4 linked regions of the Homo sapiens genome follow. The protein of the gene in region 1 purifies or fractionates together with the protein of each later gene. This does not show direct contact. Each region holds a gene or a part of one and is shown on either strand. Other genes may lie near its edges. The genes, in order: EIF4H, NEK10, LIX1L and KDM3A.

Region 1 (3,139 bases):
TCGCAGGTGTTATAGAAGTTGCCCACATACTAACGTCTTTCTACCCTTGGCTTAGCTTGGCCACTGGCGCTCAAGCAGAGACACAGTGAACACGGCCATGGCCTGGCCGCCACCAGTTCTGGTGGGAACTGCAGTGTTTTGGTGACATCTCAAACCCTATGTGGGCTCACTCGATGGAGTAATGGCTAATTTGATACTTTATACGTTATTTGCGAGAGTAGATCTTTTTTACTTTTTAATAGGATGGTGCTATTTTTTTTAATGATACCTGCTCATGTAAAAAACAAAATAGAGCAACAGAAAAGTACCAAGAAAGCAAAAACATTTCATCATCAGAAATAGCCAGTGTTAAACTAAGCTTTGTAAAGAAAACTCTGAAGATTCTCATGAATAGTTTGCTTCCTAGAAACCCACCAACAGATTTTTTGTTGTTGTTTTTTTTGAGACGGAGTCTTGCTCTGTTGCCCAGGCTGGAGTGCAGTGGTGCGATCTCGGCTCACTGCAAGCTCTGCCTCCTGGGTTCATGCCATTCTCCTGCCTCAGCCTCCCAAGTAGCTGGGACTACAGGCACCCACCACCACGCCCGGCTAATTTTTTGTATTTTTAGCAGAGACGGGGTTTCATCATGTTAGCCAGGATGGTCTCGATCTCCTGACCTCGTGATCCACCTGCCTCGGCCTCCCAAAGTGCTGGGATTACAGGCATGAGCCACCGCGCCCGGCCCCCACCAACAGATTTGATGAGAGATCCTTGTTCATCTGCTTCACCAGCGTGGTGTGAGCTATTTGTTTCACGCTAGACATTGGTGGTCGAAATCATTTAATCTCATAGTAAAGGGTGTAAATTTACTTTGTACTCACGTGGAAAGGTACACTTCACAGTTTAGTTTGGGGGAAACGTGAAGTTAAATGTTTTAATACTAACTAGGCTTGTTCACTGAACTGTGTAATGTGGGTAAAATACTTTGTAAAGGACCTTATACTCGACTGTATGCCTCCCAGTGTATTTCCCCTAAAGCAGTGCTCTTATTGGTCTAAATCTGTTCAGACTTGCTTTCATTACTTGGTTTGTTAAAATTTATTATTTAACTCAGTCTCTGAACTGGGTGTGAGATCCCTTGGTTTCCAAAACCCTTGCCACCTTTAAAGAATAGAAATCGGCCCCCACCACAGGTGATGCAGTCAGCGCTTATCATTGGAGGTGGTTCTGTGGAGTTGCTAGAACACTGAATGAGCCCGTGCGGTGCTGCTCCTGTGTGCTACAGATCACAACATTTTCGTCAGCTGATCATACCTAACATTGCTTTATGTGACTTTTTTTTTTTTCTTTTTTTTTTTTTTGAGACAGAGGCTCACTCTGTTGCCCAGGCTGGAGTGCAGTGGCATGATTTCGGTTCACTGCAATCTCCGCCTCCAGGGTTCAAGCGATTCTCCTGCCTCAGCCTCCCAAGTAGCTGGGATTACAGGCGCACACCACCACACCCAGCTAATTTTTATATTTTTAGTAGAGACGGGGTCTCTCCGTGTTGGTCAGGCTGGTCTCGAACTCCCAGCCTCAGGTGATCTGCCCACCTCTGCCTCCCAGAGTGCTGGGATTACAGGCGTGAGCCACCACACCCAGCCTATGTGACCTTGATTTTAAAGACGCCTCATTTAATGTTAGTGTTGATTCATTTAATAGTGTTAACATTGAACTCAGGGCCAGCTGTAGTAAGTAGTCTGTGGTGCCATCATTTCAGCCTGTTAGAAAGCTCATCCCACACCGGTTTTGTCTGTAAGACACCTGACAGCCAGCCTGCACTTAAGAACAGCAGACAGCACTTCACACTGCACCTGGGGCCACTTCAGACAGCGATGTCACCAGAAAAAGCCCAAAGGGCAAAACACCCGACACTCATCGTGAAAAGACTTGACAGCTAATAACTGAAACAGGCAGAGCATTATCGTTTTCTGCCTCAGCTGGGATCGTCGCATCTGTGCAGGTCCAGGACTGACTGGAGAAATGCTGCTGGTATCTAGCTTGGGATTACACATGAATTTTAGCGACTGGGTGGATTTGCAAATATGGGATCTGTGGATAATGAGGATGACTGTATAGTGCATACTGCGGGCTCTGGGGGTTCTTCTCAAAGACAAGCTCCCTGAAAGCTTGGAGCCTTGGCACCACTCTCGCAGAGAGTAGCAGTGGCACCCCCTGAGTGCGCAACCAACAGCAGCAAGCTCATTTGTTTAATTATGGTTTAACTTCTTTTCGCCAGTTTTTTTTTTTTTTCCTTGAGACAGAGTCTCACTTCATCACCCAGGCTGAAGTGTAATGGCACGATCTTGGCTCACTGCACCCTCTACCTTCCAGGTTCGAGCGATTATCCTGCCTCAGCCTCATGAGTAGCTGGAACCCCAGGCGTGCGCCACCATGCCCAGCTAATTTTTGTGTTTTTTGTAGAGAGTGAGTCTCACTGTGTTGCCCAGTCTGGTCCTGAACTCCTATACTCACCTCCCACCTCAGCCTCCCAAAGTGCTGGGATTACAGGCGTGAACCAGTCTTTTTACCAAATTTTAACATCAGTAGGTTATACAGTTAAAGTTTAGCTTTCACTGAAGTACAAGCCTGAAGGCCCCTTAAGACCATTGAGAAAATACTCTTTCCTCCTACACACCAGTGGGAATTCAGCATTTCTAAATGAGATGCAGTTTACTTCTGCCAAGAGCCCACTTAGCAGGCACACAAATGAATGGGGAAAGAACGCTTTGCCCCCACAGGAGGCGCCGGTGGGGGTGAGGCGCTGTGCTCTCTGCTCATGCCCCTCTGTGTAGGGCATGGCCAATTTCGGATAACTGCTTTGTTTACCACACAGGTGCTTTGCTTGTAGAATGGCCCACACCTAAAACGCAGCCAAAACAGGAAAATTGGGACTTTGTGTTTTTATTTTGTCTTCATATAGCGTTTTCTTGTGATTTTTGTGTTCTGAGTTGTAAATACTTCTAAATTTCAGGTTTATCTTTTAAAATAGCTGTATAGATTTCTATTAGAAAATAGAGTTCAACCTGCTTTGAGGCTTTCTTGTTTTGCTTAAGCCGTATTAAAATACAGTTTCGTGGTATTAATATTTTTCTACTTTTCATGCAAGCTGAGCATGTAA
Region 2 (8,352 bases), on another chromosome or scaffold:
TCTGCCTCCAGGGTTCAAGCAATTCTCCTGCCTCAGCTTCCCAAGTAGGTGGGATTACAGGCGCCTGCCACCACGCCCAGCTTTTTTTTTTTTTTTTTTTTTTTAAGTAGAGACAGGGTTTCACCATGTTGGCCAGGCTGGTTTCGAGCCCCTGACCTCAAGTGATTCGCCAGCCTCGGCCTCCCAAAATGCTAGGATCATAGGCGTGAGCCACCGTGCCCGGCCGCCATTTCCAGTTCTTTTTGGAAGCTGTCAGGTAGTAAAAAACGTTTTTGTTTTTTATATTAAGACAATTTATATCATTTCAGTACAAGTCTGAAGCCAACCTTGATTTTTTTGAAGGGATATACACTAAATTATAGAAAATTATTTTAATATCAAGAACAAATGGCTAAGGGGACAGGATTTACTGCATGAGTTTTAGCACTGAGTTTTTCTGAGTCATCTAGGGGAAGGGAGATGGGTAAAATTGTAACAAATGGCAAAATACACACACAAAAGGTTTTCTTAAATAACAATAGCACTGAAAAAGAGGTAGTCCGGAAGCCCCAGTCATTGCCTTATGTCTCTTTAAATCATTCTTCAAGTGGAGATTTATTTCGACATTTCATATGTGACACATATCATTAAAGCTTAGCAATACTTGTATTATTTCTGTCATAGGCCCTACTTAAAAAAAAAAAAAAAAAAAGAGTGGCTGAGTTTAGCTTTATCTGTTTTGGTTCTAGTTCAGCATTCCATCATACCTGCAGAAAGCAAGCCTGGCTGCCAGAATCAGTCTGGGCTCCATCGCCACCTTTGTGGCATTTACCTGAACTTCAGGTAAAAGAAATCTCAAAGACCTAGCTCTCTCCAACTTATTTTGGGGATGGAAAATGACACCTGAGTCAACAAAAACAACTTTCTTTTCTTAAGGAAACCACCATCCATTAGTTTTCTTTTTCCTTGATCCTATTAAGTGATTTTTTTGTATATGAGAATAGCAATAACTATTTTGGTTTGTTCATGCGTTTTTCACACAGGCAGCTAAGTATTTTATAACTATCTTCAGGTGACTGACTAGGTCACTGTTTCACTAGTCAAGAAAGTGATGCTTAAGACCATCTACTGTCATATTAACAAAAAAAGGTCAATAAAATAGTTGATTAGGTTTCTTTTGTGACATTCTGATACAAAAATATATGTGACAAAAATGTTTCCTTATTTAGAAATATCATGAAAACTCATACTTACTTTCCAGAAATGTTTTGTAATAACGTACAATGTTGGGATGATAAAGCTATAAGAAAATAAATAACAAACATGTATTGCACTGCTTCAAAATACAAGTTTTTTCACTGACTACTTAGTTGGACTTCATATTTGAAAACTACAAAGAAATTATATTTATTTACAAAACTAAGCATTTCAAGATATCATCGAACTGAGATTGTTGTGATTTTTAAAAACTTGTTGCTTATAAACTGATCTGAAAATAGCAATCCTCTATAGCTTTATTAAATAAAATTAAAAACGTTCTATCACCTAACTTTACTATCGAACTTAACCAAGAGAACTATAGAGGTAGAAGGAACCTTAAGAATTCCTTTAGCACACCTTGTCACAACCCGACACACAGACTGTATAAAGGAGAAAAGTGAAATGCGGTAACTTCTGTTGACTACAAATATTCATTGTTCTTTACCTCTCTCTACCATCTAAATATTTATGGAAAGTTTGTGCCTATTTACACTATTTCTGTCTTTCTATGCTCTCCAAAATGATTAGTAGAAAATAACATAATCTAAGAGTCGACTCAGTTTAAGTCATAATAACAGTTGACAAGGACTTCCTACTTAACCAAGCTTTAGTCAGGCTCCTCTGAGTCCTCTTCGTGACTAGGCCTCATCCTTGGTCTGTCAGTTTTAGCAACTTATATCCTGCTAAGTCAGTTTATGGAAAAATTTCCCACCCTTGACATCCAATTAAGTTTCTCATCCACTCACCCTTGATATCTAACCAAGTTCCTCTTAGTAAACTTCCATCCACTGACCCTCCCTCACCCTGACCATTGGCTCTGAGTCCCCAGCTGTCCAGTCCTCGAATTCAGAGTTGGGTTCAATCTCTCTCCTCTATTACAATAGTTTGACTTCTATTGCAATAGTATTGAATAAAGTCTTCCTCACCGTTTTTAAAAAATGGTGCAATTTCTCTTTGATATAAGTTAAGAATGTTAGTGGAATTTCTAATTTTTTAATTAAAAAAGATCATTTTCTAGAAGAATGCTAATAATTTTGTAGTTTTTGCTTATAATTTGAGTTTCTAGATAAAATTTGTCTTAGAACAGTCACCATCACATCAACAAATGGCTTGCTTGCATCTCTTTTTGGTCTTTCTGCACGTCTTTTTGAAGGGAGATTGCTAGCTGTCCACCAAAAACCTGCTGTCCCATTGCAATACAGTTGAAGCTGGACATGGCTTCCCAGTTAGAGAAGATTTCTCAGCCTCCCTTGAAGCTGGGGGTGAGGCTACCACTCAGTTCTGACCTGTGGAATATGAGAGGAAGCATGTGTGCTTCCTGTGTGAACTCTAAACCTTGGGAATAGCCCTCCATGATCCTCCTCATCTCACCTTGGATGTGAGCATGGCTATGGCAGTTTCAACCACACAGATGAAGACAGTGCACTAGAAGGTAACAGCACAAGAAGAGAGAAAAAAGCCTGCATCCCCAAATGATCGCATGGAGCAGAGAACACCTTCAACCTGGTTTACTCACTTTGGGATTGTTCCGTGAAAGAGAAATAACCCACTGTACTGTGAGTCCTCTTTCTAAGCACCTGCATTTGGGATCCTCTTTGTTAATGCAGGTTAATCTTAATGTACTCTCCATTCTAGCCCCATTTGTTTTGCTTCTGCCTGCCACTACCTCCTCCTTTAAGGACTCAATGTTATCATCCTTTCCATCAGTTTGATCCTCTAGTGAGAGGGCAATTTTGAGTTACCTCAAAGCCCAAGCATATGCTTCCTATCTGACCCTAGTTTGACAGTTTCTTTTCTTAGGAAATGTGCTAAAACAAATAATCTACTGCATCAACTAGCAAGTGGCCAGCAGATCGTAAGCAATATGTGACCAGGTAACCAACCAGAACCATATTCTGGACCTGGCTCACCCACAAGGACTAAAACCAAATTTGGGTCCAGATGAAAACACTGGACTGGCTTAGGTCAAAAGCCCTGTTCTAGCCTTGTGCTACAATGAAAGAGCACACTGTGGAAGGCTAGATGACCATACAAACACATGAACAAACTACACATGAACAAACTTTTTAAAGTCTAGTCTATTAGTATATAAAATCAACTATAAAATAAACAATTAATGATAATATTTACTATAATGTACACACTGGAGTAGAACTATCGATTTTTATGAACAAAGGTCTCCTTGTTTATGGAATTTGTTACATCCCAACACAGATGCTATGCAAATGTGACCAGTGGAGGACAAAAGCAGCAAAGCTGATAGTGCACCACAGGAATTATAAATGAACAGTATTCGTGATGAATGTGCAAATAAGGAAGGCTGAAAAAGAAACCAATGTGTTCTTGGATCACACAAAGAAATTCCATTTCTCTTTGAAATGTTTATTCTTCCTCCTCAAACAAACTTTCATAATGAGAGTTAATTGAGCTGTTACATTATATCAGAGTATTCTGCTCATGCCAATACATAATAACCCAACTTGAAAATCTACATTTTAGATCTAATAAAGTCATATTTGAGGAATGTTAACAGCTTGGTTCCATTTGGCAAAAGTCAAGAAACTCTTAGTCATATTTCTATGTATGTAACTAAGTAACCAAATATCCTAAAATATAAGGAGAAAAGAATAGATATGCTCACAATGAAAAGAAAAGGATTTCTCATATATGATGCATTCTGTACTGTAAATCCGATTGTTTTGCATCCATGACCCTGATATAAACTCCAGACAGTGTTTTATGCTTCAATGTCAAGCCTTAGGAAAAAAGCTGGCAAAAATATCACTGCTTCAGTGTCAATTATTTCACATGGAACTAGTTCATAAGCAGCATGGACAAGAGCACCACAACTCTACTTTCTTGCAATGACATGTATTTAAGAAAAACATCTTCAGAAACAAGGAAAACATTTACCTGCTCTTTAATTATTGTTAATTCAGAAACAATATTCCTTACGCTGCTGTCTCGATCTTTCTTATCCTTTCCAAATGCTGGGTTATGTAAATTGACCTCTTTCATTGCTAAAAGATTTTGACCACTATGCTTTCTAACCTAAAATAAAGAAAAACACAACAACAACAAAAGGAACAGGGTAAAGAAGGAGAAGAGAGAAAGAGGAAGAAAGAGATAGACTAACAAAGTCACATGAGTAACTAAGTCATATAAATAAGTCACAGAGCATTTAAAGTTCCAGCTGTATTTACATTAAGCTCAGCTCAAAACATCAAAACACTGGTATCCCCTGGGTCAGTCTGCAATACTTAGTAGCATTTTTTAATTTAGAGATTGCATCATGCATTGGGAGAAACTATTTTGAATACCTTTGTGAGAGATTAATAATGCCTTTTGTCTTAAAAAGTCAGTGGCCAATTTCTAGAGCTTACAGCTAAAACAATATTAGTGTGGCTATCTCTGTTGGACAAAAACAATCATTCTAATTTTCATATCTGTTTGCTATTTTTCAATGACAAGAGTTCTAATTCAATTGAATATCGGTGTGCAAGTGTGACATCCGGTTTGGTTGGGAGTATCAGAAATGTTCCCCAAGGGGAAAGTCACCTTGTAAACACAGCCAAAAGCTCCACTTCCAAGATGATCCAAAATTGCATAGTTGCCTATATATTTCAAAGGAGCTTTGTTCTGATTAATGCTTTCAATATTTTCAGCAATTTGCTTCAGTTCATCCTCCTAATCAAAATATAAAAAGGAAATGGGTTTCTGTGATAAATTACATCCTGACTACATAGCAGCCTGCCAAAATATTGAAAACTCAGGACTTACCACTAATAAATTCAGCTTGGATACCAATTCTTCATAAGCACTGATATCACGTACATAATGCCCTATGTCAATGAAGATCTCAAACAAGTCTGTGGGGAAAAGTCTACAGAGAATATTACACACACTTAAAGTAGAACTTGGACACAGTTGATCATTACTTCCCTTTTTTATTTTTTTGAGACAGAGTCTCACTGTGTCACCCAGGCTGGAGTGCAGTGGCACGATCTCAGCTCACTGCAAGCTCTGCCTCCCACGTTCACGCCATTCTCCTGCCTCAGCCTCCCAAGTAGCTGGGACTACAGGTGCCTGCCACCATGCCCGGCTAATTTTTTGTATTTTTAGTAGAGACGGGGTTTCACCATGTTAGCCAGGATGGTCTCGATCTCCTGACCTCGTGATCCGCCCGTCTTGGCCTCCCAAAGTGCTGGGATTACAGGTGTGAGCCACCGCACCCGGCCCATTACTTCCCTTTTGAATGCAGCTCACTCACTGATTAATTACATGAAACAAATTTAACTTCTTTTGGTTATCAACAAAGTTGGGGAAATAATATTCCCCAACTTATCTCGAAAAAATACACTATTTACAGTTTTTGAGAGGTAAGAAAAAAACAAATGGAGAAGAAAGTTCTAGAGATCTGCTGTACAACCTTGTGCTTACAGTTAATAACACTGTACACTTAAAATTTTAAGAAGGTAGATGGCATGTTAATATTTTTACCATAATTTAAAATTAGATATGATACAGATTATACAAAAATCTTACTTGTAAGATATTTGGGGGTATAGGCATTGAATACATTAGAAGGAAACATTTATTGGGTGTTTTTTTGGGTGTGGAGCACTTTCACAAATGTCATTTAACTCAGATTTTAGTAAGAAGTAAATACTAACCCAACTTTTAAATAAAAGTTTCATGAAAATAAAAATACTGGTACATGAAAAATAAAACAAATAAAGAGATTCATTCATCATTCCCAAGACACTGGTTTCAAGGGGTTTTAAAATCTTTGAGTTCACTAAAAGGGATGATTTAGAGCTCTGAAATGAAAGATTATAAAGAATAAGTAGCTGGGTGTGGTGGCTCACGCCTGTAATCCCAACACTTTGGGAGGCCAAGGCGGGTGGATAACCTGAGGTCAGGAGTTCAAGACCAGCCTGGCCAACGTGGTGAAAACCCATCTCTACTGAAAATACAAAAATTAGCCAGGTGTGGTGGTGCATGCCTGTAGTCCCAGCTACTCAGGAGGCTGAGGCAGGAGAAGCAACAGGATGAGCCTTTGTCAAAAAAAAAAAAAAAAAAGAGAACTAATTTTACTTCATTTTCCTCTAAATCCAAACAGTATAGAAATAAAGTAACAACATAAAATGCTCCATGCTTTCTGCACTTGATCTCAGCCAAAAGGCCGAAAAGTGACGCTCCATGCTTTCTGAACAAAAAATACTATATTAACTCAATACTTTATGTCTATTCTGCCTTATTAACAAAATTTTAATAAAAACTTGGGCCTATGATTTTGGCTAACCCACCTAACTAAATGGTGTGCAGAACACCACTGAGGGAACCAGTGTTTGCTTCCCGAAATGGTGACCTTTTGGTCAGGCTCACCAACACAGTATCTTGACCCCAGAACATCCAGCCTCCCCTTCAAATGAGCTCCTACACCATCAAAGACACACAAAAAAACAGTTTGTTTTCCCTTTGATTAAATTCCCTTTGATTAAAGTGAAATTACCCGATTGACTTTCAAATTTCTAGCTGGAAAAAAAGAAGCTCATATTTTAATGCCATCTTTTAAAAATGTTAATATCTTTAATTATCAAAAAGAAAGCTAAAATCACAGCAGTCACATGTAATTAAGGGGAGTTGTATTGATATAGCAATTTATGCTCTTTCATCATCATTCTGTTAATATTCAGTGTGGCTGGATACTGAATCACTACAGTAGCTCACTTCTATCTGTGAAATAAGAAATCTGAAGACACATGGTTTGCATACTGACGCATTATTTTCCTTCTGTTGCATCTAAGCCAAGTATGTGAAAACAGTTCAATCTAATGATCTCCTAAACCTAATGATCACTTATATTTCTCTAACCTCATACCTTTTAAAGAGTGGTCTGTTTCTTTCCATACTGAAGAGAAATCTCAAGGCTCTGAAAGCATAACACTAGAAAACAAAAGGATATGTGATTCTCAAATGGTAGCTCAACAAATTAAAACATTTTCAGGAAAGAATTAACAGGAAGTAAACATTAACGTGACTTTATTGTAAGTGGCTGGTCCAAGTTGGAGCCAAAGCTTCTAACTGAAAACAAAAAACACCAACACCTGGGGTCATTCCTGTATTTAAAAAGTGTTTATGTTGTAGAATGCAGGGAATATTGGCCTTGCTTCACTTGGTACTCGTCATTAATTTCTTTCTAGAAAGTACAAAATGAGTACAGAGACAAGAAATAAAATTCCGATGCTGAGAAAACCAAATGTCTAAAGATTTCCAGGAGCTCAAGGTTTATTTTGTTTCTAGCCTGCTATGTATACCTCAATATTTATATGGTTTCTGTGAGAAAATAAACACTAGAAATGATGACATATAAAAATAGCCGCAGGCACACTGGATTCAAACTTGACAAATTGGTCTCTTGAGTAAAGAGTCTTAAGCATTCCCCAAATAGAACAATCTACACTAACTCCCTAGAACGCTCAGAAAGAGGCCTGTGAGCCTTTACCTAGGAAAAATAAACATCTGACATTTTGCAGTACTGAGAAAAAAGAGTGTGCCCAGCCTGCAGCTGTGCCTGCACAATAGGCCACCATTGGAGTGATCAGGGTTTGGTGAATCAAATCTGGGATCATTTCCTAAAATCAGTGATCTGAACACAGAAGGGTCCCATACAAAATTGCCCAGAGAGGTGAGGCCGGTAACAAAATGACATGAAGGAGCCAGGTGAGAGCAGTGGAGACTGTGAGAAAGGGAGAGCATGCATATTCCTCAAAAGCCCTCCATCTGGAATTCTAAAAAACCCTCTACTGGCTTAACGAAATGTCTCTGCAGGATGGGTTTGTCTTTATCTGTTTAACAGCACAGTGTCATATATCTGTGATGCACTGAAGAAATCAAGTCCCATGCCTGCACCTTCCCGTTGGTAGCGCTCCAAAAACCCCTGCCTGCCAGCACAGAGACACCCCGAAAGAGTCTGCTGGGTTTGGCCATCATTTTGGATGATAACTCTTAAATCAGATTGGAGACAAAGGTTGTTTCTTTCTTCCTTTTCAAAATGACTTGGGGGAAAAAAAAAGATGAGCTACAACTATTGCAAAGACTAACTTTAAA
Region 3 (8,871 bases), on another chromosome or scaffold:
CTAGAAAGGGGGATCCCAAGTGTGGATAAGACAAGGGGGACAGAGGAAAGGTCTGATAAGCCATGGGGTGAGGGTGGGGGTGCGGACATCCCTGCGCGTGCACGAACGCATTTGCACGCGCGCTAGTCCTTCAGTGCGGGTGCACCCTTCCCACCTCCTCAGGCATGCGCTGCGGGGGAAGGGCCGGCTCAAAGGCATGAGTTAGAGGAAGGACTGTATGCCGTGAAGGTCTCCTCCACCCCACGCTGGGTCCCTGCATCTGTGCCTCAGTTTTCCTGCCGAATCTATCAATGAGATGTCTCTCTTGCAGGGATCGGCTTCGTCACTGAGACCTCAGGCCTCTGCCAGCCACTCCCCCTCCCCATACCCCTAGTCATCCTCGGCAGGTCTCAGTCCCGGCTCCATCTGTGCCCTCGCCCCAGCCGCAGCTATGTTGCACACCGAGGGCCACGCTCTTCTTCGGGCGGTGGGTCAGGGTAAGCTACGCTTGGCCCGTTTGCTTCTGGAGGGAGGCGCCTACGTGAATGAGGGTGATGCGCAGGGGGAGACTGCGCTAATGGCAGCCTGTCGGGCCCGCTACGACGACCCCCAGAACAAGGCACGCATGGTACGCTACCTCCTGGAGCAAGGCGCGGACCCCAATATCGCAGACCGATTAGGGCGCACGGCGCTCATGCACGCTTGCGCCGGGGGTGGGGGCGCCGCGGTGGCCTCGCTGCTCCTTGCCCACGGCGCAGACCCCTCAGTCCGAGATCACGCGGGCGCCTCGGCTCTTGTCCACGCCCTGGACCGCGGGGACCGCGAGACCCTTGCCACACTGCTGGACGCCTGCAAGGCCAAGGGTACGGAGGTCATCATCATCACCACCGATACCTCGCCCTCAGGCACCAAGAAGACCCGGCAGTATCTCAATTCTCCACCATCCCCAGGGGTGGAGGACCCTGCTCCCGCCTCTCCTAGCCCGGGGTTCTGCACGTCGCCTTCGGAAATCCAACTGCAGACCGCTGGAGGAGGAGGGCGTGGGATGTTATCCCCTCGCGCCCAGGAAGAAGAGGAGAAGCGGGACGTATTTGAATTCCCTCTTCCTAAGCCCCCCGATGACCCATCCCCTTCCGAGCCGCTCCCCAAACCACCACGCCATCCCCCAAAACCACTCAAAAGGCTCAACTCCGAGCCCTGGGGCCTAGTGGCCCCTCCTCAACCAGTCCCACCCACTGAAGGGAGACCGGGGATCGAGCGCTTGACTGCCGAATTCAATGGCCTGACCCTGACCGGTCGACCCCGTCTTTCCCGACGTCACAGCACCGAAGGCCCTGAGGACCCGCCCCCATGGGCGGAGAAAGTGACTAGCGGGGGTCCTCTCTCTCGCCGAAACACAGCACCAGAAGCTCAGGAGTCTGGTCCCCCTTCAGGGCTGAGGCAGAAACTGAGCCGCATGGAGCCAGTGGAGCTGGACACCCCTGGACACCTTTGCCCTGACTCGCCTGAGTCCAGCCGCCTGTCCCTGGAGCGCCGCCGATACAGCGCCTCCCCGTTGACCCTCCCTCCAGCCGGCTCGGCTCCCTCTCCGCGCCAGTCCCAGGAGAGTCTGCCAGGGGCAGTATCTCCGCTAAGCGGAAGGAGGCGGAGTCCGGGGCTGCTGGAGCGGAGGGGCTCGGGGACGTTGCTCCTGGACCACATCTCGCAAACGCGGCCGGGTTTCCTACCCCCTCTCAACGTCAGTCCCCACCCTCCCATCCCTGACATTCGCCCACAACCCGGAGGTCGGGCGCCTTCGTTGCCTGCCCCTCCTTATGCCGGGGCGCCAGGCTCTCCCAGGACCAAGCGCAAATTGGTGAGACGCCACTCCATGCAGACTGAGCAGATCCGCCTGCTGGGGGGCTTCCAGAGTCTAGGTGGGCCTGGGGAGCCAGGGCGCTGAGAGGAGTGAGAGGAGCCAAGGAGGGTGGGGATTAGGACCTTAATGGGATAGGTGGGAGAACCAGCTCACACACACACCACGAACAAAGGGATCTCTTGCATGTGCTCATGGGTGCACAGTGCACCCACACATGGTTAAACATGTGTCCATAAGCACAGTACTCTTATTAGCAAGAAAGAATAAGTACTCTATTTACTGGGTATATACACACATGTATTCATGCCCTGGTCATTTCACATGCATATGGGATTACTTGTGTACCTACAGGCACAGCATATCAATAAACACACAGGGCTAGGGTCCCAAACTCTCTTGCATTTGTTCAGAAGCAGTAGGGAACCCTTACTTATGGGCAGTCTCCGATGTCTTTGCCCTCCTGCAGAAGCAATCCCTTGCTTTCCATGTATGCCCTGAAACACAGCCTATCATGATTTTGCACACTCTCTCCGTGGACATCCCAGCCCATTCTGCAGGTCTTGCTTCTTTCTCCAGGCCTGGCTCCTTATTCACACCCTGCTTCTAACCCCAACCACTTTTCAGGATATCTTTTTCACTCTTCTTGGGGGTTCCTGCAGCAACCCCCAGCCTCAGTTCTGCTGCTGTCTTTACTGCTCTCAACTTCACTTCTCAACTTCCTGCTTTTTATTCCCACCCTGTTCCTCCAACAACTACAACAGATTGTCTCATTTTCCCAGGGGGTGGGTCATGGGCTCTAAGCTGCTCTTCTGTCTGTCTGAGCTTATGAACACCCCCACAGGTAGAAGTGGGGAGAAACCCTAAATCACTCCTCTCTCCACTTGACATATCAAATAAATGTGTTCAGAAGTCTCTGTTTTGTCACTTCTGCCTGGAGGTGTGGGTATGGGGAATGAGGAATGGGGAGGGAGGGTAACACTAACTTATAGCTATAATTATCCAAGGGATACTTAGCTGTTCCAGCCACCTTCTTTCCAAGAAACCAACTTTTCTATAGAGAAAAGGCAAGTGTCCTGTGTCCTGAAGATTTTAAGGCATTTGACAGGATTTCATTTCCTCCAGTTTCCTCTATGTCCAACCTTGAATTCTTTAAGGTTCCTACAAAGAGTTCCTCCCTCCATCATCAGCAGATATATCCCAGTAGATTAACTGTCTCCTTTTGAAACTTCCTATTTCTTGACTACTCACAGTTTTTATTCAGGGTCTAATTTTCATTTCACCAAGTGTGTTTCTTCTATTTTCTTCTACTTCTGGCCTCTATTTCCCCATCTTTGATTTCTGAGCCACTGTAGGAGAGATGGGGGGAAGCAGTTAATATAATCTCACCTAAGCAAAAATGGCCTGGTGACCACATGATAAAGGGTATGTAGAGTGTGTGTGTGTGCATGTGTGCAAGTGTGTGTGTGTGTGCAAAGTAATCAGAGGAACCCAGTCTGACATATTATACCAACAAGGGTAATTTTCTTAATTCCCCCAACTGGACTTCTCAGTTTGCTAATTTTCTGCATGTATCCTAACTCTTTCTCACTCTAATGGGAGGCAAAGAGACTTGCCCATCCCACTCTCTCTTATTCCCTTCCTCTACTTAGAATAAGTGAACTCAGAAATTTACCCAACAATGTGGCATAGTAAAAAGATAAAAATATTGGGAATCAGAACACCTATGCTTAAACTCTGAATTCCACTTTGCCATCTCTTAGCTATTTAATTTTGGCCATTTTTCTAGCTTCCCTCAGCATCTGTTTCCTTATCCCTAAAATAACAAAATCTAGTTAGTGATTGTGATTGTAAATAAGACATGCACTACAGTACATTGCATAGTTTATGTTCATTAAATGTCAGTATCTTTCTTGCCTTAGCTCCACCACCAATTGCATATGATGTTGGACAAGTCGAATTACTTCTCTGAGCCACAATATCCTCACCTGCAATCTGTGAAATGAAATGGTAGGACAAAATGATCTCTACTCTGTCTGCAATCCTCCCCAATCTTGCATCTAGGCCCATTTTTTTCTTCAAGCCCAGCCCCAAGATTCTGTCCTGCTTTCTAGTGCTTGCCACAGGACTCCCAAAGACGCGCCGAAGCTCTGCGTCTGCCTTTCAGAGGATACGCTTTTTCTCTTTGCAATTGGTTCTGAGAATCCCCACCCTCCTCAATAATTTGCCTATGGCGGAGCAGGAGCCCTCCAGCTCCCGCCCCATCACTGGTGATTGGCATGGGACCTAGCTCGTCCCCGCCCCCACTTGACTGAAGGTTCGGCCCTGGCACCGCCCTGAGTCCCCAGGCGCTAGCTGACTGGGGTGGTTGGGACCGTTAGCTCGGCAGGCTGGCAGGCTCCGGGGCGCTACTCCATTGGCGGCCGGGATGGAGACTATGCGAGCGCAGCGGCTGCAGCCTGGTGTGGGCACCAGCGGGAGGGGCACTCTCCGAGCGCTGCGGCCCGGAGTGACTGGGGCCGCGGCCGCCACCGCCACACCCCCTGCGGGCCCCCCGCCTGCCCCGCCGCCTCCCGCACCGCCCCCGCCGCCGCTGCTCCTGTCTGGGGCCCCAGGACTACCCCTGCCCCCCGGCGCCGCCGGCAGCCCGGCAGTGCTGCGAGAGGCCGTGGAGGCCGTGGTGAGGAGCTTCGCCAAGCACACGCAGGGCTATGGCCGAGGTGAGTCTGCGGGTCTGGCCTCCTGCGCGACACCCTCTGTAAGGGAGCCTTGCTCCCACAGTCCTCCGGATCGCTTTTCCTGGCGTGGAGCCCTCACATGCATTTCCTTTTGGGGAGTTTCCTTCTGGGCTACGCACACGCACAGACGCACACACTCATACACACGTTTAAGCCTCCTACCTCCTCCCCTTTACTGAGTTATTAATATATTCTCCAGGGACTCTTTTTCAGATACAATCCTCTTTTCTTCCTAAGCTTTTCTCCTTTAGAAATGGAATTCCTCCTCCAGCTTAATACCTTAACATCTCTCTGCCTTTGAGAACCAGTCCTCATTGTGTGGGATCCTGTCTTTTATTTCAGATCCAATTTCTCATCCATACCCTCTCAGTCTTTCCTCTGTGATCTCTGCAATTCCTGGACTCACCTGTTAATTTGCTCCAGCCCCTTAACCTTGACTGTTAAATTCTTTACTTACTTACCTTCACTCTGAAATTTCAGTGCAACTTCAGATTTACTGGGGAACTAGGTAGTGCCTTCACAAGTCACTCATAGTAATTGTGTATTTAAATCCGGACCTGTACCACTGAACTCACAGCAGCTTCCTGTGGCTCAGTACCTTACTTTGGTATCTTTTTTAGTATGGAGACTCACAACTCCAGCCTTTCTGTCTGGCTGTGTTTTCCTGGCCCTTGCCCAGGAACTGAGGATAAATCCCAGGCCTTGGCTCTTTCAATGTTAAATTCTGTGGAAATGTGCCAGGTTAGAAACTCTATTTCAGTTAGAAAACTTCGTTAATTTCTGGAAAGAGGGATGTGAGGGTTTTCTTTGTTGTTTTCGTTTAACTAGGGTAGTTTCCTGTCTGAGTTTGAGTTCCAGATTTATAGTGTAAGTAATAAGGAATATATAGTGAAGGGTGTGGAATACAGAATTTAAGCCTGGAATTTACAAGACATCCCTTCTGTCTGCTTGGCCAGGTCCTGCCTGACCTGGAAGTGACTATATCTTTAACTTTCTGTTTAACAATAATACAGAGAAAAGTTACAGGGCTTTTCTGTAGATTTTCTTTTTTTAAGAAAGTTTAGTGAAAAGAGCACACACAGGCTTTGGAGATCTTTGTCACTTACCAGCCAAATCTTTGGGGAAGGGACTTAATTTCACTGAGCTTCAGTTTCTTCAAGGGTTACAATATGGATTGACTGAGACATTGCAAATGACATATAACCTAAAAATGATTATTATCTCAAATTTGTTGGTTCATAGTTCCTTAAGTAGAACATGCTTCACTTTTTCCCACTCTTAAATCCTAATAATGTAAACCCAAAAATTCCTATGAAAACAGATTTTTAGAGCCATTTTGCTATATGTGCCTAATGATTCATTCATCATCAATTTCCCTTTGTTCTTCATACAATTTGAACTCCTATTATAAGACAGGAACTCTGCTAGGTGCTGGGGATACAAATGGATGAATCTGAAACTCATGAGGAAATACTATTTTTCCAATGTAATCCCAAGATTTAACAAGGCTATGTGATGGAACTGCTATTAGCTACTATCCTGCTGCTTCAAGTCTCTAAGTCAAGATCAAGGGAAGGTCTTTGCCTCTGGGCACAGGAGTAGCCTAGAGTGGTCACACTAAATCTGAAGCCTTCCTCTTGGCAACTTACAGGCATTTATTAAAATTATAGAAGAGTACACCCTTTTTCTTGTCTGTGTTACCTGGAGAGCCTCTGCTTTGGCTCCCAAACTGGACATCCTGTAAAAACTTTCATTTCCTTAGCAAGGATGAGGGAACAAGGGGATTGTACTGACAAAGGGCAATTAATCAGGCTTCACACTTCGTGGTGATTTTCTTTCCTATCTCCCCACCTCCCATCGCAGTCTTTCTCATTATTCTTGAGTTTCTCATTTCCAGTCTGAGTGTCCAGCCAGTACTTTAGGAAAGTCTGGCAGATAGTTCAGCTTCAGGCAAGCAGAATCTCTGCCCATTTGGCTCAGAAGTCCTTTACCACATGGAATCACTTATTCTGCTTCAATTCTTAGGCAAAGCTGCCACTGGCATATATTCACATACCCTTGTGACTGATGGCATGTTATTTGGGGGAATGGCTGTATTCCCCTGAATACAATTTACTTTAGCCTCTGCCTAGACAATTCATTCCCTCATCCAGCAATGCTTTACCACATCATCTTCAATTAACATCCTTCATCTTCTTCCTGAATGCTCCAAATCCACCTTTTCCAATCAGTCTTTAGATCTACCTTCACTCATGTGGGCTATCAGTATGTATGTATATATGTATGTATGTATGTATTTACTTATTTATTTTAAAAAGCTTTCCTGTCCTTTATCTGCCTCCCTCACCCACTTACCCAAGATACACACACAGCTCAGTATTCTGTAGGATCTTGATAAGTTTGTAGTGCATGGGATTTGTAATCAGAGGACCTAGCCCTGTCAAATAGTTGGCTGTGTGATCTTGGAGAAGTTGCTTAATCTCTCTATGCTTCATCTGTTCTCTTCATTCATTTACCAAATATTTATTGATCACCAGATGCAGTGGTGGACAAGGCAGATATTTAGTCCCTATCTTGATGGAGCTCACAGTTTACATTACAGAGCATGTATAAAGATTAATGGTGTAGTAAAGCAGGCCAGCCCAATACAAAGAGGGTTGACTTTGGAGCCAAACAAACATTGTTTCTAAATCCTGGTTCTGCCACTTCTGGCCTGTTCCTTAACTTGCTTACTTTTTGTAAAATGGGTATTATAATACTTATCCTGATAGTTTTGTGTGGATTAAATAAGACAACGAATATAAAGCATGCAGCACCTGGTACTCAGTATGGTTGCTACTATTGTGCATTTGGAAATGCTTTGGAAACTGCAAATGATAGGTACTGTTCTGCATTGCCATTTCCTTTGCACCCTTTTTTTCTATGGCATATAGTCTCTTTCTCATGTTTGACATCTGGCAATCTCTAAACTGGCAGGATCGAGTAACTCACTTTCCTTGCTCTGTAATTGCTACATTTCCCTCTTCAAACCTGTTGTTTTGGAAGTATTGCTATCCTTTTATGTTACAATATGGCTGCATGATTGGAGATTTTGCCCTGTTATTTCACTAAGTTGAACAAATGAATCTTGTGTAGTATTTTCTATTTAGTTGTTCCTTTTCCTCAGAATCACAGATAGCTTCTTTTCTGTAAGACTGGAGTTAAATGGGTTGGGCTGAATATTTCCAATTTTTGGAAATGCTGGATTAGTTCCTATATTAGTTTCCTGTGGCTGCTGTAACAAATTATCACAACTTTAGTGGCTTAAACCAACAGAAATTTGTTCTCTCATAGTTCTGGAGGCCAGAAGTCCAAAATCAGTATTACTGGGCCAAAATCAAGGTGTTGGCAGGGCCGTGCTCCCTCCAGAAGCTCTAGGGGAGAATTCATTCCTTGCCTCTTCCAGCTTCTGGTGGCTGCTGACATTGGTTTATTACGTGGTTTATTGCTGTATCACTATAATCTCTGCCTCCGTGACTCCTCCTCTTCATCAAATATGCCTCCTTTTTTTTTTTTTAAGAAATGGAATCTCGCTGTGTTGCCTAGGCTGGACTGCAGTGGTGCAATCATAGCTCACCGCAGCCTGGAACTGCTGGGCTCCAGTGATCCTCCCACCCGCCTCAGCCTCCCAAGTAGCTAGACTACAGGTGCATGTCACCACACCTGGCTGATTTTAAAAAATTTTTTTGTAGAGATGAGATCCCACAGTGTTGCCCAGGCTGATCTTGAACTCCTGGCCTCAAGTGATCATCCTGCTTTGGCCTCCCAAAGTGCTGGAATTATAGGCATGAGTCAGTGTGCCCATCCTGCCTCCCTCTTATAAGGACACTTGTGAATGCACTTAGGGCCCACCTATATAATCTAGGTCATCTCCCCATCTCAGATCATTTAAACTCATCTGCAAAGTCTTTGCCAGATAATGTCACATTCACAGGTTCCAAGGATTAAGACATGGACATTTTGGCAGGTGGCATTATTCAGTCTACCAGAGTCCCCTCCCAAAGTCACTGTTACTTTGCAGTCTCTCCTTCCAAAGAGACTGTGGATCGTGGGCTATTTAGGGGCAGATGTACCTTCTAAACATTGAAATAGGAAATAGATGAACTATTGTTAACTAGCTTCCCTATCTTCCATAATAATGTGAATAGAGTCAGTCTATTCTCGCCATCCTCTATGATCAAGGAGAATCTTTTTACTCACCTCTTAACTTCATTATCTCTTTATTCCTGCTTCCCCACCACAAAGTTGTATTTATTACTT
Region 4 (8,275 bases), on another chromosome or scaffold:
TTCTGGGTTGTCTTAGACGGCCAAAAGATTTGGCACCCTCACACAGCCAGTAGTAGTGAGGGGTGTCACAGGCCATATTCCTGCTTGGCAATAACAGGCTCAAGTACGGTGGGGTCAGTCACCCTGTTTCACTGGTGACTGGTGTCACTGGACACTCCTTCCAGCGCTTGTCTTCTTCACAGTCCGTCTTGCTGTAAGTAATGAGATCTTACTAGGAGAGGTGATCCTTTCTCCTAGATGCTTACCCATGTAGTTTGAGAGCAAGGGTGTGTAGCAGATGAATGGTGAAGGTTGGAGGTGCTTTGGGAGCTCAGAGAACTAAGCCGAAACTGTCACATCACCATCTGAGACGGAGCACCAGCTCCATGGAAATATACCAATAGCAGTGTGAAGAGGGACTGCCTTCGGGAGTGGGGACAGAGCTGGCAGAGTTCAGACTAAAGTTTTCCTTCTCTTCATTTAGCCAGTGATGGTGTCTGGAGTGCATCATAAATTGAACTCTGAACTTTGGAAACCTGAATCCTTCAGGAAAGAGTTTGGTGAGCAGGAAGTAGACCTAGTTAATTGTAGGACCAATGAAATCATCACAGGAGCCACAGTAGGAGACTTCTGGGATGGATTTGAAGATGTTCCAAGTATGTATGAAAGATCTTTTAAGGGGGTTGGGGATGTGAAAGGAGGGGACACAGGAATGGCAGGAGTCTGAGACCCATCAGTGGCAGCCGCAGCATTTTCCAGGATTTTGGAGTTTAAAATTAACGTCTCTCCTCCCCTTCCTTGTTACAATGTTTATGCTTTTAAACACTGAGGCATTATTACCTGTTCTGTTGGTCTTTGTTGTCCCTGGACAGAACATCAGATAGGGTCAGTCTCTCTCTCTGAGCAGAATAAGTAATTTCTGTTGCATGCTGGCCTCAGAAAAATGGGTTTACTAAACACCTGTGACCCTTGATGGTTGACGTGCATTGCTGTTGGTTAGTTGGGATGCTGCTCACTTCTTCTGGAACACTGTAGAGGAGGAGCAGATTGGATCGATGACAGCTGTTGAAATACCACCTACATGCAGTGGGCAAAAGGGAGCGGCTGAATCTCCCAAGAATGAGTAGCAGCTTAATAAGCTTCTAGGAAAGACAAGGCCCTGACACAGATCCATTAGTTGGTGATCTTTATTTTGCTGCACCTTGCTGCCTCCTGGGTACAAATGGATTTTTTTACACTGCAGAAATAAAATGGTGGATAGTTGGTAGGAGGGGAAAATTAAGGAAAAGTAATATTTGTATACTAAATTTATCAGGTTATGAAAATTTTGCAGAGACATATTTTATTTGTATTGTTGAGGCATAAAATGCTAATTTGTCATTTATTTTGGTCTGTTTCTGAATTATAAATAGTAATAGTTCATTCTGTTTACCTTTCAGATCGTTTGAAAAATGAAAAAGAACCAATGGTGTTGAAACTTAAGGACTGGCCACCAGGAGAAGATTTTAGAGATATGATGCCTTCCAGGTATGATTATGAAGGTGGGGAGAGATGATTCTGTCCTTCACTTGGTAGGATAAATTCTTTTTTGAGGTAGTGAGAAAACAGTTTTCAAGAAAATAACAAAAGTTCTGTAATTATACTGCCACTGATTTTTCATTTCTAGTCTGTAGTCATTGGAGGCATGTTTATTTTTAGATGAGATGAAGAAGTGATTGGCTTTTAGGCCTGGCTGACTAATGGAACACCACAGATTTTCCATGGTAGGCCCTGCTAGAGAAGAGGCTCACTTTTTCTTACAAGGCTGATTTGGAGGCAGTTGTGGAATCTGACCTGTCAGGGTCAGGACAATGTAGTCACAGCACTGAGTTAGACAAGAAGACATCTACTGGGTAGATCTATTTTCCTGACTGAGCTTGAAACTTTGAAAAGGGTGTCACAACTAATCAATGATATATCTCTAAGAATAACTTTTTGTCTAGAATTTATTGCTGAGATCTTTTGTCTGAACGGTTACAGCTGATTTTGACACATTGGTGTGTTGTAGGAGAGAGAGAAGACATCTTTGTAACTGCTGTACTTCTCATCTTAAATATTTGATGGCTGTCAGTCTGCATGATCACAGATGGATTTGTTCCTTTTGGTGTAGAAGGAACAAAACAGGTTACACAATAATGAATTAGAAAAGCAATCTAACTTTGCAAATTCCTGGTTCTGTTGTTCTAGGTTTGATGATCTGATGGCCAACATTCCACTGCCCGAGTACACAAGGCGAGATGGCAAACTGAATTTGGCCTCTAGGCTGCCAAACTACTTTGTTCGGCCAGATCTGGGCCCCAAGATGTATAATGCTTATGGTAAGGAGGAGATGGCTAACTTTAAAATGGAAATAAAACAATTCAAAATGTTTGGAAAATTGATTTTGTGGGAGGGAGAGGTGGAAAACACCCATAATCCTAATGCGTAATACAGCCACAGCTTTCATTTTTACATATTTCCTTTCGTTCCCTGGCCACATGTTTGTGTGTTTCTTTTCATAGTTGCAGTTGTAGGGCATATGCAATTTTGTGTTTTTCCCTTTACTGTACCTAATTTTACATTGTAAAATCTTTACATGTTACTTAATAGTCTTTAGATGACTTTTAATGGTGTGTGATACATCATTGAGAGAATGTACTTTTATTAGTGATTTCAGTGTTCGGACATTTAGGTCAATCTGCTGGCATTCTAGCTGTCTTAACATCTGCTACAATTAAATGCAGTGTTCTGTGTTGTTGAGTAGAAGTTAGTTACTTAGGATTCAAAGTACCCTTTGAGTTGGACTTTTATTCTTTTGACATGACTCAATACTCACTGTCTAACAAGGAGGATGCCTGGGATAAAGATTGGTTTCTCCATTTACCAGAGCTTTCTTTCATCATCATTATAACTGAGATCTTCGTCAGTTTTACACATGGCCTTTAATTAGGGCTGGATTCGAGTTGGCCATTTTGAAGGAAGTATGTATTGTTGAATGCAGTTCTAGTTGTTTGAATATTTCAGTGAATTTTATTTACTCATTTTTACTATTTGGCCCCTACTTTTCCAGTCCTCCTGGAAATTACTTATTTCTTCCTGCCATAATTACTTCCATGTCATTTTCCATTTCTAGCCTTAGACCTGTGGGTGTCTTTCTCAAAAAGGACAAGGTCTGTTGTTGTCTTCGCTATGTTCTCCAAAGACTGTTGGGGGAGGGAAGGGAAGGAGGGGCAAGGACTCCAGCCCCACAATTCTGTTACGGTTGAGTCAGCTCAGGGAACCACTAGGAGTGTAGTTGGGGACTGTTGTGACAGGGGAGTGTTTTTGTGTGCAAGCTCCCAGCAGTCTCCATGCCCAAGATAGTTCTGCCAGGGTAGGGGTACCAGAGAAATTGTGTGTGGGTGAGAAGACCCGGTGGGCACAAGGCCTCTTGCCTGTTCCTCACTTCTCAGGTCTCTGTTGGTGAGTCCTCCATGTGCTGTGGGTCTGCAGTGTGCTCTCTCGAGGTCCTGTCCCTCGAGCCCCTCAGAGACTGATTAAAGCAGCTGCATGGTTGGGATCTTGGGCAAACTTAAGTATATAAGAGCATTTTTCCAATAAATTGTATAGTTTATCCATGCTTTATAGAAATCCTGAAGCTTTAAAGGTGGGTATCTGAGAAATTTTCAAAAGAATTGCTTGCGTGGTTTAACTAGCTTGGCAGCGGGTCTTTCCCCCTAGACACTAATAGATGGCAGTGTTACTCTATAAAAGCTTTTCCTATGACAAAATGGTTCCCATCCAGAAGCAAGCATTCAGAAGGATGAAAATAATGATGTGTTCATTTTCAAACACCTTATATCTTATTGTAAACATCATTAAAGAGTGGTCTTTTCAAAGGTTGTGTGATTGAGCTGTGACTCTTCCATGAGAGTAAGTGCAAAGGCTCTTTGGAGAGATCATATAATCCAGCCTCTCTTCAGTTCCTGCAACACCCCCCATTTTGCAAATGAGGACCAGGACTTGCGGACAGTAGAAGGGGCATTGACTTGTTCAGGATCTCCAAGGGGCAGCTAGTGGCAGGTCTGAAACTAGTACTTAGATCTCCTGATTTCCAAGCTAGAGCCCATTTCCCTACTCTTCCCCCACTCTTAACTCCCCATCACCCAACAGCCCCTACTGTTTCAGCTTTTTTTCCCCCTTAAAAGTCCATGGTGTTTTGTTTCAGGATGTTTTGTTGTCTAGCACTCCTTTCCCTTTGACCATTATGTTTTTACAATTTTGGTTTCATCTCAGTTTACCATGGTTTAGAGTCTGGTTTTATCAATGTACAGTTACCCATGACTGGGATCCAGTGGACTTTGGGCCAGTGGCTGGGCAGCAGTTATTTCCTTGCTCGTTTTGCACTGTGGCACTGGCTGGATCAGCAGGCAGCCAGTCCTGCTGAGGCTTTGCCTCCTAGTCTCCTTTCCTTACTTTTCTTGCCAGCTCCATCCTCTTCCTATTGCCCTTAGTCTAACCACCATCTTCAAGTTTGTGTTTATCGTTTGCTTATATTTACAATTTTAACATATATATTTGTATTCCTGCACAATATTCTTTCAGTTTTTAGCCTGCTTTTGAACTTCATATAAATAGAATCAGATTTTTTATATTCATCCATGCTGTCATATATCATCCATGTGTTCATTTCATTCATTTTATTTCTATTACATTAATTGCTTTTTTCTGAAATTTTGCTTTTTACTATGGAACTATTTTTCAAATACAGTGAAAACTTGAGAGTCTGGTAGTGACTCCATATAACTCATCACCCAGTTATATAACAGCTTTTAACTTTTTGCCATAATCGTTTCATTGTCTTCTCTCTTTATGTTTTTTCATCATCCTCTCAACTATCCTATGATTTCACCCTAATACCAAACGCTTTACCTACTCCCAGGACTGATATTTCAGCAAGCTGGAAAGAAAGGAAAGTACAACAGGGCTCTGGGGGCCCTGGTCCCAAGCTGGAGTGAAGAAATGTGCCCTCTCAAAAGTATAGCCCCTCTAAAACCAAAGCCCCAGGCAAGCCAGAGATAAAGCCTTCCTCCAAAACAGTATTATGGGGCGTTTTCAGAGGCTGGCAGGTTAGAAAACAGCCGCTGCTTGCTCACTACAAGCTGTGCTTCTCCCTACTGCCCAGTCTAAGAAGCAGAGTCCTGGTGTTACAATGGGTTGCCCAAAGTGACTGCAGGGTAAGCTTCAGGATGATTGTTGAGCAAGGTGAGCTTTCTCCTGTGAGCAAGGAATTAGCCACAGACTGAACACTGTGGGGGACCTGTCTTTCTGGCTCACTCCTCACCCCTCCTCTTTTACAGTTGAGAGAACCAAGGAATGCGTTGGGCAGTATTCCTTCTTATACTCATGATAGCCATTTGACGTTCCAGGTTTATGTGTGTGTGTGGGTGGGTGCTTTCCCTTGGACTCCCCATCTCGAGTGGTCCTTGGGCTTTGTCTCTTGCCCCAGAACTCCTAGGCTGTGGCAACAATCAAAGCCTGAGCTCACTTGATCTAGCAGATGTCCTTTTGGCAAATCCCAGCTTCGGAAGCCTGCTTTAACCACTTCCATTTCCTGCTGTTTTTGGCTTCTGAGTATTCCTTCTTTTCTTGCTAGCACATCGATTGGTTAAAGAATTTTTTTGCAATAATTTGATCCAGAATTTTTATTCTCAGCAGAAGAGTCAATCAGGGACCTACCATCCCCCAGGTAGGTAGTGGAAAGACTGTGGCAGCCTTTGTTGTCTTTTGTAAAACTTAAGGCACTTTGTTTTTGCAGGATTAATCACTCCTGAAGATCGGAAATATGGAACAACAAATCTTCACTTAGATGTATCTGATGCAGCTAATGTCATGGTCTATGTGGGAATTCCCAAAGGACAGTGTGAGCAAGAAGAAGGTAGGGTGCTGAGCATAAAAGGAGGGCTTACTCTTTGAGCCAGGGCTTGTGGTCTGATATCTGCTTTCTCTTCTTGCTCTAGAAGTCCTTAAGACCATCCAAGATGGAGATTCTGACGAACTCACAATAAAGCGATTTATTGAAGGAAAAGAGAAGCCAGGAGCACTGTGGCACATATATGCTGCAAAGGACACGGAGAAGATAAGGGAATTTCTTAAAAAGGTGTGCTGCTTATGGCATGTGTGAACAGAGGCATAAGGAATAGCAATATTATGTTACTACATGTGGTGAACTGACTGGCTTGGCTAGGGGAATTGTCACAACCTGAAAAGTTAAATCTGTACCTGTCAGATTGAATAGGCTGAAGGTGGTTGCTAAGGAACAAGGATTCTAAATGATTAGGGTTACACTTCTAAAAAAAGCAGGCCTTGTCTTTTATGTCTGTGTTTTGTGTTAGAGTGCATTTAGAGATTTTTGTTCTCTGCTTTCAAGTTAGAAGTTAGTTCATCTGATCATCTCCCAGCATATATCTGTTTTTATTGCCTTGAGAATCTGAGCACTTCAGACGTTCATGTATCCTTGGCCCTGAGTGACCATGTTCTGAGTGAGTTGCTAAGTTTGGTTTTGTCCACTGTCATGTAGCAAGTGGTCCTACTTGTTACTAGCAAGGGTTGCAGGGATTTGGAAGATTCTAGGTTTCCCCTGTAGTTGGCAGGTTTTTTTTTCAGCAAGGGCTATGTGTGGAAATTCTAGGCAACTAGAAAGATGAGTCGTGTTCAGTTTTAAAATTGTTTGGCACTGAGGCTGCCGGTTGCAACTCAGGTGTCTTTGGCTGATATTCTTCAGTCATTCATGAGTCTTGGATATGAACATTCGTAACCTGTTAGCTGGCCCCAAGTATGTCTTTAACAAGCATTTGTTTGAATCAAAGTGTTTCTGGCTAAGGATCATTTGGCTCTTCCAGAAAACCGGCTTGGTCACCATATTGTTCTTTTGATATTGTCACTCTGAGTCTCTGCTTTACCAGTTACTGGATCAAGGATAAACAAGTCTAATCTGCAGCTGTCTTTGGGACTGTTTCGTAAGTCAGATTAAGTAAAGGCAGGTTTCTAATAACTTTAAAACAAGTTCATTTATAAGGATACTGAGCCTACTTATGTTTAAAAATCTAGACTAAAATATTGTTTAAATACAGTATTTACAAACTTATGCAGAGCCTGTCAGTCATGGTTTATGGGAACTGACATCACATTTTCTTCGTCATTCTTCTGTTGGTTCATTCAGCTGAAGTCTTTGATACTACTAGTCGTCTTCTGCCAATGGGGGCACTTAAGTTGAAGAAGGCCTGACATTTATGAACTGCCAACACTGTTTAGAGGAAAAAAATGGCTTATTGGGCCTTAGCATGTTACTGAGTTGCATAATATTTTGAATGTATTCTAGGTATCAGAAGAGCAAGGTCAAGAAAACCCAGCAGACCACGATCCTATTCATGATCAAAGCTGGTATTTAGACCGATCATTAAGAAAACGTCTTCATCAAGAGTATGGAGTTCAAGGCTGGGCTATTGTACAGTTTCTTGGGGATGTGGTGTTTATCCCGGCAGGAGCTCCACATCAGGCAAGAATCATTACTTTTTCTTTAATCTCTTTATGTCATGAACTTTTGGGTTTGTTACTGATATATTACTTGGTGTTTTTCAGGTTCATAACTTATATAGCTGCATCAAAGTGGCTGAAGATTTTGTTTCTCCAGAGCATGTTAAACACTGCTTCTGGCTTACTCAGGAATTCCGATATCTGTCACAGACTCATACCAATCACGAAGATAAATTACAGGTAAAAATAGCACCAATTCCTAGCATTCTTTGGCTATGGCTATGGCTTCATGGCCCATTCTTCACCTTATAAAGAGAGTCAGTGAACTTGGCCATATCGTACTTAGTACACAGTGAGTCGAGGAACTTGCTTTATATCTAGTACTACTATCTACTTAAGTGAGGGAGGAACAAGAGGAAATCTCACCTTGGTTTGATTTGATATTGTTTAGAATCTATAAGGGACTGTCCCCACAGAGAAAGGCCTTAGTACTGAAAATGAATAGATGTGACTTCTGATCTTGGCCCAGCTGCCTGTCGGGGTCTTGAACACAGTGCTTAACCTTCAGTGCTGCAGTGTTCTCATCACTCTTAGGTAGAGCAGAACTGAATCTCTGAGACTCAAAGAGGTCTGAGGGGGTGGTATTTTCAAAAGGATTTCAGTAATGAATTATGTAACATAATTTCATGTTTGGAAAATAAGGGAAAAATGATAAAAGCTGTACCTTGGAACTTGCCTCTCCCTGTACTCACTGTGAGTAGGT

Evidence for each region.
Region 2: the proteins of EIF4H (region 1) and NEK10 purify together in Homo sapiens (co-immunoprecipitation; one large-scale study listed by IntAct). This does not show direct contact.
Region 3: the proteins of EIF4H (region 1) and LIX1L fractionate together in Homo sapiens (co-fractionation; one large-scale study listed by BioGRID). This does not show direct contact.
Region 4: the proteins of EIF4H (region 1) and KDM3A fractionate together in Homo sapiens (co-fractionation; one large-scale study listed by BioGRID). This does not show direct contact.

Annotation. Positions count from the first base shown.
Region 1 is NC_000007.14:74,191,356-74,194,494, forward strand, and holds part of EIF4H (eukaryotic translation initiation factor 4H), read left to right. Parts: intron 1-3,139. UniProt on the Homo sapiens protein: Stimulates the RNA helicase activity of EIF4A in the translation initiation complex. Binds weakly mRNA.
Region 2 is NC_000003.12:27,286,465-27,294,816, forward strand, and holds part of NEK10 (serine/threonine-protein kinase Nek10), read right to left. Parts: intron 7,189-8,352; coding exon 7,124-7,188; intron 5,123-7,123; coding exon 5,020-5,122; intron 4,927-5,019; coding exon 4,798-4,926; intron 4,291-4,797; coding exon 4,153-4,290; intron 1,280-4,152; coding exon 1,234-1,279; intron 1-1,233. UniProt on the Homo sapiens protein: Plays a role in the cellular response to UV irradiation. Mediates G2/M cell cycle arrest, MEK autoactivation and ERK1/2-signaling pathway activation in response to UV irradiation.
Region 3 is NC_000001.11:145,953,319-145,962,189, reverse strand, and holds the start of LIX1L (LIX1-like protein), read left to right. Parts: upstream 1-4,172; 5' UTR 4,173-4,262; coding exon 4,263-4,554; intron 4,555-8,871. Other genes in the region: ANKRD34A (ankyrin repeat domain-containing protein 34A), read left to right, coding at 431-1,921.
Region 4 is NC_000002.12:86,483,524-86,491,798, forward strand, and holds part of KDM3A (lysine-specific demethylase 3A), read left to right. Parts: intron 1-463; coding exon 464-635; intron 636-1,418; coding exon 1,419-1,506; intron 1,507-2,205; coding exon 2,206-2,336; intron 2,337-5,794; coding exon 5,795-5,914; intron 5,915-5,996; coding exon 5,997-6,136; intron 6,137-7,357; coding exon 7,358-7,534; intron 7,535-7,617; coding exon 7,618-7,752; intron 7,753-8,275. UniProt on the Homo sapiens protein: Histone demethylase that specifically demethylates 'Lys-9' of histone H3, thereby playing a central role in histone code.